Regions from separate parts of the Homo sapiens genome. Here region 2 is linked to region 1. Evidence: fine-mapped expression QTL. Tissue or cell type: whole blood. Region 1 holds a variant in brackets; the other region holds the start of a gene. All regions are shown on one strand. Distances are from middle to middle.

What was found. PIP is the estimated chance that this variant, and not a neighbour inherited with it, causes the effect.
Region 2: DYNC2I1 starts here. The variant in region 1 is fine-mapped to the expression of DYNC2I1 in whole blood (INTERVAL, PIP 0.92).

The regions. Positions count from the first base shown.
Region 1 is chr7:158,886,906-158,891,905 of GRCh38, forward strand. It overlaps DYNC2I1 (dynein 2 intermediate chain 1), which reads left to right. Exons shown (of 25, transcript NM_018051.5): 7 at 116-170; 8 at 4,360-4,428. Among named protein-coding and RNA genes, the nearest start is that of DYNC2I1, 33 kb to the left of the region's middle. The variant C/CA (reference allele first, on the strand shown) is at 3,100.
Region 2 is chr7:158,853,999-158,859,127 of GRCh38, forward strand. It overlaps DYNC2I1 (dynein 2 intermediate chain 1), which reads left to right and starts at 2,560. Exons shown (of 25, transcript NM_018051.5): 1 at 2,560-2,752. The coding sequence starts at 2,738. It overlaps LOC124901796 (a long non-coding RNA gene), which reads right to left and starts at 2,524. Exons shown (of 2, transcript XR_007060627.1): 1 at 2,383-2,524; 2 at 1,140-1,398. RefSeq lists a silencer at 2,616-3,085 and an enhancer at 3,436-3,977.

The sequences.
Region 1 (5,000 bases):
AGTTCTTAATCATATCAAAATATTGTTAAGAGCTTTCACTGATATGGAAAATGTTTTATTTTTTAAAAGCTCTCATTTAAAGTAAGTTTTGATTTTGATTATGTTTGCTTTCCAGGCATGCTGAGAATTTAGTAAGGAATCATGGAAAAGATAAAGATTCAAGACGGAAGGTAAGGCAGTCTCCACTGAGAATACATTGATTTTATGGTACATTGAGATTAACCATAATCTTACTTTGGGCTTCCCCTTGAAACCAGAGGCCGAGACAGGGCTCATTTGCAGATGGTTTATTCGAGTGGTGATCCCAGAAGGCACACTGGAGACTCACTTTAGGTTAGAAGATGCAAATTGATTGAAAGTAAAAAGGTGGACAAAGAGAATCTATCAGACAGCAGCTATGAGAGGGCTGGATTGGCTACACTAGTATCAGATAAAACAGATTTTGAGACAGAAAGTGTTACTAGAGAGAGACAATTCAGAATGAGCAAATAATTGGTTCAGCAGAAGGCGATAAAACAATTGTAAATGGATATTTACCTAACAAGAGGGTCCCAAAACACAAGCAGCAAAAACTGACAGAATTGAAGGGAGAAAGAGACAATTAATAATAATAGTAACTTTAGCACCCCACTTTCAGTAACAGGTAGGACAATATTTTATGGTAACAAATTAGGTAATTTAGATGAAAGGACAAATTCCTAGAGACTATCAGTTACTAAAACTGCTGGAAGCAGTAGCCTGAATAGACCTATAGTGAGTCAAGACATTGCGTTTGTGTTACAGATCTCCCCACAAAGTCGCTCAGGCTCTGATGGCTTCTCTGGCAAATTCTACCAAGCACATGTTATTAATAGACACTTGTTACTAACACACAATCATCATCCCTCTCCTTGCATAATTGTTTCCATGTGTTAAGCTACCTTGTGACATGTATTTATGCACAGGGAGAATTGTACCCTGTGCTGAGCTTGTCAATTAGTACATCAGCGTTTCTCCACAGTCTTCATTATCTTCACTGTCTCCATTAGGATCATAAGAGTAGGCTTTGTAATGATTACTTAGTGACTCTAAAATAGCACACTGTGGAGTTAGGGTTATTATCAAACCATTGTCCTTTTTTTTTTTTTTTTTTTTTTTTGAGACAGGTCTCACTCTGTTGCCCAGGCTGGAGTGCAGTGGCACGATCTCGGCTCACTGCAACCTCCGCCTCCCGGGTTCAAGCGATTCTCCTGCCTCAGCCTCCTGAGTAGCTGGGACTATAGGCATGCGCCACCATGCCCGGCTAATTTTTGTATTTATAGTAGAGATGGGGTTTCACCATATTGGCCAGTCTGGTCTGGAACTCCTGACCACATGATCTGCCGACCTCGGCCTCCCAAAGTGCTGGGATTACAGGCGTGAGCCACCGCACCCAGCCTTTTTGTTTTGTTATTACAGATAATGTGGCAAGCATATTTTGGATTCTATGAATTATTTCTGGAGAATAATTTTTTCTTCTTTGATCGTTATCTGAAACCCATGATTCTGAGGTAATCATATTTAACAATTTTGTGCCATACATACATATATATATATATATACGTTGAGATGGAGTCTCACTCTGTTGCCCAGGCTGGAGTGCAGTGGCGTGATCTCAGCTCACCTCAACCTCTGCCTCCTGGGTTCAAGCGATTCGTGCCTCAGCCTCCTGAATAGCTGGGATCACAGGCATGCGCCACCACACCCAGCTAATTTTTGTATTTTTAGTAGAGACAGGGTTTCACCATGTTGGCCAGGCTGATCTTGAACTCCTGACCTTAGGTGATCCACCTGCTTTGGCCTCCCAAAGTGCTGGGATTACAGGCGTGAGCCACTGCGCTTGGCCTTTGTGCAGTATTTTTATGAATTGCTTTATTCTATGTCCGTACACAAACATAATTTTACATAAATTAGGTCATACAGCACCTGTTGTTTTGACGTGGATGTTTTATTTCTTTAATTTTGGTGGTGGTGGTTGGATTGCTTATTATCTGGCTATAGCCACACATTTACCACAGAAAAAAATACCTACAAATATTTCTTCTCATATAATCTTTTATAATCATATATTGGTATGTATATTTAGGAGTTTGGAAGCCAGTTTTAAACATTTACACACACACACACACACACACACACACACCCCTCCTGTTTTTCTTTTTTTTTTTTTTTTTTGACATGGGGTCTCGCTTTGTCACCCAGGCTGGAGCGCAGTGGCGCGATCTTGGCTCACTGCAAGCTCTGCCTCCCGGGTTCACGCCATTCTCCTGCCTCAGCCTCCTGAGTAGCTGGGACTACAGGCGCCTGTCACCACACCTGGCTAATTTTTTGTATTTTTAGTGGAGACAGGGATTCACCATGTTAGCCAGGGTGGTCTCGATCTCCTGACCTCATGATCCACCTGTCTCGGCTTCCCAAAGTGCTGGGATTACAGGTGTGAGCCACCACGTCTGGCCACCCCTCCTGTTTTTCCTAGTTCATAGTGGAAATCCCTCCAGTTTGGACGATATAGATCTACCGCATTTTTTTTGTGGATACATTTCTTGAAGTGGAATTGTGGAAATACTGGATGAAAACGTATAGATTTCTTTTCCTATTTTCTTCATGTTTCCCAATTTTGTCTCTAAGCTCCAGGTTGGCATTGTTAACTAGAATTATAATGTGAGCCACATTTATAATTTTAAATTTTATTTTGTATTTTTATTGAAAAAAATAGGCCAGATGTTCGAGACCAGCCTGGGCAACATAGGAAGTCCTCATCTATATAAAAACAACAACAACAACAAAATTAACAAAAAGGCCAGGCATGGTAGCTCAGGCCTGTAACCCCAACACTTTGGGAGGCCGAGGCAGGGGGATCATCTGAGGTCAGGAGTTTGAGATCAGCCTGACCAACATGGTGAAACTCCCGTCTCTACTCAAAATACAAAAATTAGCCGGGTGTGGTGGTGGCCTCCTGTAATCCCAAGCTACTTGGGAGGCTGAGGCAGGAAAATCGCTTGAACCCGGGAGGTGGAGGTTGCAGTGAGCCGAGATCGTGTCACTGCACTCCAACCTGGGCCACGGAGTGAGACTCCTTCT[C/CA]AAAAAAAAAAAAAAAAAAAAAAAATAGAGGTAGGGTCTTGCTCTGTTGCCCAGGCTGGTCTCGAACTTCTGGGCTCAAGTGATCCTCTTGCCTCAGCCTCCTAAAGTACTGGGATTACAGGTGCGAGCCACCACAACTGGCCTATAATTTTAAGTTTTCTTATAGTCACATTAAAAACATACAGAAGAAACATGAAATTAATTTCATAACATCTTATATAATCCAATAAATCTAAAATAGTATCCGTGCAACCTGTAATCAGTATAAAAATTATCAGTGAGGTAACCAATGGGATATTTTACATTCTTTTTTTTTCTTTTCCAGAGGAGTAAAATATATGATGTGTTTTTTTCTAGAAAAATTTCAGTTGATTGTGAATGTATCTAACAGCTTGTTTTGGCTCTGATTAGATCCTGATTTTACAGCAGCAACACTGAATTTATCTTGGTTCAATTCTTCAGCATTTATGGAGTGCCTGCTATGTGCCAGAATAGTTTTCTGGACACATGGGAAGTTCTTTTTCTATTTTCTTCATGAATAATACTTTATACTGTCACCAGTTTTAGACACTGCCTAGTTTTGGGTAGTGACTTCTTTTTTTTTTTCTTTGAGACTGAGTTTCGCTCTTGTCGCACAGGCTGGAGTGCAACCTCTGCCTCCTGAGTTCAAGAGATTTTCCTGCCTCAGCCTCCCAAGTAACTGGGATTATAGGCACCCGCCACCATGCCTGGCTAATTTTTTTATTTTTAGTAGAGACGGGATTTCACCATGTTGGCTAGGCTGGTCTTGAACTCCTGACCTCAGGTGATCCGCCCGCCTCGGCCTCCCAGAGTGCTAGTATTAGAGGCGTGAACCACTGTGCCCAGCCTGGGTAGTGACTTCTAAGTGCATAGATCTTCCTAGTGTCATTGACAAAGGTGACATTTGCAAGGCTTTTTCTTCATCAGATGCAGGGATCTGGACTTCATGTGTATCCTTTTATCCACTCCTCTCACTGCTACTGTGAAGCAGATGCCATAATTCTGATTTTTCAGAAGGGAAAGCCGAGGCACAGAGGGTTGAAGATACTTGCTCTAAGTCACACAGTTTGTCAGCCACCAGGCTGGGACCTGCATCCCAGAGCGTTAGTTTCGTAGTCTGTGCACCTGTTTGCTGAGGGCTGGCGGGCTCCGCAGTGGTGGGGTGGGGGGGAGCTGCGTGGCGTGTGCCCTGGAGTCCCACCTGTGTCCTGGCTGATGGGGCTGTTCTCTCTCCATTAGCATGGCCACGAGGAAGGCTCTTCTGTGTGGTGGAAGCTGGACCAGAGGCCGGGAGGCGAGGAAACCGTGGTAAGGAGAGTACGTCTTCTTATAGTTTGCAATCCTGTCCCAGCACAGACCCACTCACATTTGCTTGCTTTCCTGTCAGCATTTTGCTAGTGCAATTATTGTCCCTTTCAGACAGCAGAACATGAGCATGAAGGGACAGATGAGATTTTCATATGAAATTCATACTTGCCCTTGTTTGAAGTCCTCGGTCATGTTGAAAGCTGTCTGGGTTGTGGGGGTCAAGGAATGTAACTGGGTTGTGTGCACACCGTCAGGTACTTGAGCCTCTTTCTTCCTGGAAGAGGAGAGGATTTTGCAAAGAAATTGGAGGGAAGAGGTTTAGGGTGAATGAACAGACAGCCTTCCCATTGTTGCTCTGTGTGTAAGTTGAAGAAAGTGAGGAGATTTGAAGACACCTAATAGAGAAATCACAAAAGACACGATCCAGGCCATGGTTGCTGAGAATTACACAAAGTTATAAATAATTTTCAGAATATATATGCAAAACTGGATAGATCAAGGAAATGCAGGTATCCTCATATAAGGGAAGAATTGCGGACGGGGCCTCTGAAGGACGTAGCGCGGAGCTTGAT
Region 2 (5,129 bases), 33 kb before region 1:
GGAGTTTGAAGGATAATTTAGTGGGTGGGGGGGCGTTGAGAAGTGGGGAGTGCTGATTGGTAGGATTGGAGATGAAATCAGGGAATCCAAGCTGTCTTCTTGCGCTGAGTCAGTTCCTAAGTGGGGGTCACAAGACCAGATGAGCCAGTTTATCCATCTGGGTTGCACCAGCCGACCCATTGAGTGAAGGGACTGAAAAATGTCTCAAGCACCAATCTTAGGTTTTACAATAGTGATATTATCCCTAGGAGTAATTGAGGAGGTTTAGAATCTTGTGGCCTTTAGCTGCATGACTCCTAAACCATAATTTCTAATCTCATGGCTAATTTGTTAGTCCTCCAAAGGCCATCTAGTCCCCAGCAAGAAGAGGGTTTGCATCATTCTCAGCAAACTATCACAAGAACAGAAAACCAAACACCGCATGTTCTCACTCATAAGTGGGAGTTGAACAATGAGAACACATGGACACAGGGAGAGGAACATCACACGTGGGGGTCTGTCGGGGGGGGCTGGGGGATAGCATTAGGAGAAATACCTAATGTAGATGACGGGTTGATGGGTGTCGCAAACCACCGTGGCATGTGTATACCTATGTAACAAACCTGCACGTTCTGCACATGTACCCCAGAACTTAAAGTATAATAATAATAAAAAAAGAGAAGGGGGTTTGTTTTGGGAAAGGGCTGTTATCTTTCTTTCAAAGTTAAACTATTCTACGACCAGGAATGGACAAGGACAGCTTGGAGGTTAGAAGCAAGATGGAGTCAGGTTAGATCTCTTTCACTGTCATAATTTTCTCAGTTCTAATTCTTGCAGAGGTAGTTTCAGACTTAAGTTGCAGATCTAAAGTTACAATTGGCGTGTCTTTGTTTAAGTGAGGACACACATCTTGAAAGGTCTCCAGGCTGGCAAAACATTTACACCTGGGAGACTGGTGGGGGCCAAGGTGCCCGGCCCTGCCTTCACGGGGGCCTGGCTGGCAGGAGCCTTGCAGCCTGCAAAGCAACAGCTGTGCATTTGGAAGAGGGTGTTGGGCGACTCGGCTTGCAACCACCCAAGGGGTTCACCTTGCCCGCTGCCTAGACAGAGCCTATCGAGATGGGGGAATTGCAATAGAGAAAGAGTAATTTACACAGAGCTGGCTGTGCAGGAGACTAGAGTTTTATTATTACTCAAATCCATCTCCTTGAGCATTGAAGCATTCAGGGATCAGAGTTTTCAAGGATAACTTGGGTGGGGGGAAGCCAGTGAGCCAGGAGTGCTGATTGGTCAGAGATGAAATCATAGGGAGTCAAAGCGGTCTTCTTGCCCTTATCAGTTCCTGGGTGAGGGGCCACAAGATCTGATGAGCCAGTTTATTGATCTGGGTGGTGCCAGCTGATCCATCAAGTGCAGGTTCTGCAAAATATCTCAAGCACTGATCTTAGGAGCAGTTTAGGGAGGGTCAGAATATTGTAGCCTCCAGCTGCATATTAGAAACTACTCCTAAAACGTAATTTCTAATCTTGTGGCTAACATCAGTCCTACAAAGGCAATCAAGTCCCCAGGCAAGAAGGCCTGCTTTGGGAAAGGGCTGTTACCGTCTGTGTTTAAATTATAAAATATAAACTAAGTTTCTCCCAAAGTTAGTTCAGCCTACTGCCAGGAAGGAACAAGCACAGCTTGGAGGTCAGAAGCAAGATGCTGTGGGTTAAGTTACACCTCTTTTACTGCCTCAGTCATAATTTTGAAAAGGCGGTTTCAGGCTTTCAGCCCTAACTTTCCCTTTGGCTGAAGGAGTTCGGAGGTCCTGAGAGTTTTTGATTTTCCCTTACGTGTTGTATAAAAACAGTCTCTCAACGTTGATTCCTGCCTACCTTACTGCTTGTTTTTATCAAAAGACGACATATGGGAATATAATTTGTTAAGTGCAAAGCCTTATTCAAATGTAAAGCTCTTTTCTTTTTTTTTTTTTTTTTTTTGAGACAGAGTCTCGCTCTGTCGCCCAGGTTGGAGTGCAGTGGCGTGATCTCCGCTCACTGCAAGCTCCGTCTCCCAGGTTCACGCCATCCTTCTGCCTCAGCCTCCCGAGTAGCTGGGACTACAGGCGCCTGCTACTGCGCCCAGCTATTTTTTTTTTTTGTATTTTTAGTAGAGACGGGGTTTCACCGTGTTAGCCAGGATGGTCTCGATCTCCTGACCTCATGATCCACCCGCCTCCGCCTCCCAAAGTGCTGGGATTACAGGGGTGAGCCACCGCGCTCGGCCTCAAACGTAAAGCTCTTTTCAATATCTGCTCTCCCTTTCTATCTTCCCCGACTGTCAGTCCGGTCCCGTGGGAACCCGGGGCGGGTTGGGGCGAGTCAAGAGCCCCTGCACCCCAAGTCAGGGTACTGCACCTACCCCTTGGGGAGACCAACGACCGCTCGGTCCTCTGCTGCTCCTGCCTGGCGGTTGCTAGGAGCCGGGGAAGCGCAGGCGCATTGGGAGGGGCCGCGGGCACGCCGAGCAGCGACCACTCGGCCTTCCCCTGCTCCTGCCTGCCAGGTGCTAAAAATGCCGGGGATGCGCAGGCGCACTGGGAGAGGCCGCAGGGCACGCTGGGCAGTGCTTCTGGGCCCTCTGCTGCTCCTGCTTGTCGGTTGCTAGGCGCTGGGACGCGCCTCCCGAAGGGTGCGGGGCACAGGTGGCCTCTTCGGGGTGGACCGCGCCTGGCCGGGGCCGAGGACACCGCGGCCGCCCGGGCCTGCGGGAAGCGATGGAGCCCGGGAAGGTCGGTGCGGCGCTGGGTCTGGGCGAGGGGTGGTCGAGCTTCGCGGACTCCTTCGGGCGCCGCTAGCAGCGCCGCCGCCGCCCTCCCTTTGCGCAGCGGTTCTCTCGGCCGGGCCGGGGCTTCCCGGAGGAGCCGCGGTGCCTCCGAGGCAGGAAGGGAAACGGAGGCGCGGCTGGCCGTCGGCGCGAGGGATGGCAGGACGCCGGGCTCCCGGCGGTCGGGAGAGGCGGTCTGTGCAGCCTCAGGCCTGGGGTCGCCGCCGCGGCCCGTCTCCTCGCGCCCGGCCTGGAGGCGGCCTCGGCCCCTGCTGCGGGGCCGGGGTGGCTGAGGAGACATATTTAAAAGTTTATTAAATTTTAGCTGACTTAAGTTTAAATATGACTTGTCACAGTTTAAGAGGTTGAGAGAGTGCAGCCTGGGTGCTTGAGTTTGAATTCAGGATTTTGTATTTACTTGTATGACCTTGGCAAACTCACTTAACATGTCTTGTTTCCTAATTCATTCAATGGGCACAATAATAATAGCAACATTATAGGGTGTTTAAGAAGGTTAAGTGAGATATTATGTGTAAAAGTGCATAGACCAGTGCCTGCTTTCATTAACACTCAATAAATGTTAGATATTACTGTATTATTCTTATCTATTGATTCCCCACTGAAAGATGAGGAATTTAATTTGCATACATTTTCTTCTACCTTCACTCCTATTATTTTTTCCCCATCACTTACCTTTATGTGTTGAATAATACTCCTTAATTTGTATTTTATGTTATATAAACCTTAGGTTTTTGTTTTTTTTTTTTTTTTGAGATGGAGTCTCACTCTGTCACCAGGCTGGAATGCAATGGCACGAACTTGGCTTACTGCAACCTCCGACTCCAGGGTTCAAGAGATTCTCCTGCCTCAGTCTCCCGAGTAGGTGGGATTACAGATGTCCGCCACCAAGCCCAGCTGATTTTTGTATTTTTAGTAGAGATGAGGTTTCACCGTGTTGGCCAGGATGGTCTTGATCTCCTGACTTCGTGAGCCACTGCACCCGGCCTTTTTTTTTTTTTTTTTTTAAAGATAATTCCCCTTGTCGCCCAGGCTGGAGTACAGTGGCACGATCTCTACTCACCGCAACCTCCAACTCCTGGGTTCCAGCGATTCTCCTGCCTCAGCCTCCCGAGTAGCTGGGATTACAGGCAGGTGCCACTATGCCTGGCTAATTTTTGTATTTTTAGTAGGGATGGGGTTTCTCCATGTTGGTCAGGCTGGTCTCGAACTCCTGACCTCCGGTGATCCGCCCGCCTTGGCCTCCCAAAGTGCTGGGATTACAGGCGTGAGCCACCGCGCTAGGCCAACCTTAGATAGTATTTTTTAACTTTCCCCTAGTTAAGATTAAGAAGCTACTGCCCTGCACTCCCCATTTCTCCCTAAACCCACTAATTTCCTGACCCTGTCATCTTCTATGCTATTCTCTTTACATTTCTTTAAGTTACTCTGTAACTTACATTGTCCGTGATTTGTTTATAGGTTGATTTTAAAAATGAAAACCAATAAACACTATAACATCATGGTTATATACGTTTTCATTGCAGAACCAAATAGTCAGATTGGACCAATAGATACAATGGAGTCCTGTATTCTAAGCTCACTCTACTCAGGGAACAATGTTTCTGGTGTCAGGGTCAAAGGGGTCATCTTTTGTTACATTCAGTTAATGTACCACAATGAAGTTTGCTTATCATTTGGACCATGTCTTTCATAAATGGCCCTATTTGCCCTGTTTTTTTAGTTTTGGCAAAAAAGAACATAAGCTGTTTTAAATTTTTAAACCTTATGATGTCTTCTAGCTTATTAGTGTCATATTACCTGTTTAATGAAATTCTCTTAAATTCTTCCCAGAGCTCACTGACTTTATGTTCTCATCAGGACAAATTGTTTTCTAGACATGCACAGAGCTATGATCTGGGAATTCTTTCTCATTGTGCTTCTGGGTTAGGCCTACTGTTTCTTGGATCAAGTGTCTCCCTCTTTTTTGAAATCTCCATGCTTTTTCCAGTGGAGTATCCCCTCCCCCCACTTTCCTCTCCCCTCCCCCCTCCCCTTTCCCCTCCCTTCCTCTCCCCTCCCCTTTCCCCTGCCCTCCCCTTTCCCCTCCCTTCTCCTCCTCTCCCCTCCCCTCTCCCCTCCCCCCTCCCCTTTCCTTTCCTCCCCTCCCCTCCCCTTTCCTCCCCTCCCCTTTCCTCCCCTCCCCCCCTTTCCTTTCCTCTCCTTTCCTTTCTTCAGAGTCTTGCTCTTTCACCCAAGTTGGAGTGCAGTGACACGCTCACAGCTCACTGCAGCCTAAACCTCCCAGGCTCAAGCAACGCTCTTGCCTTGGCTTCCCAAAGTGC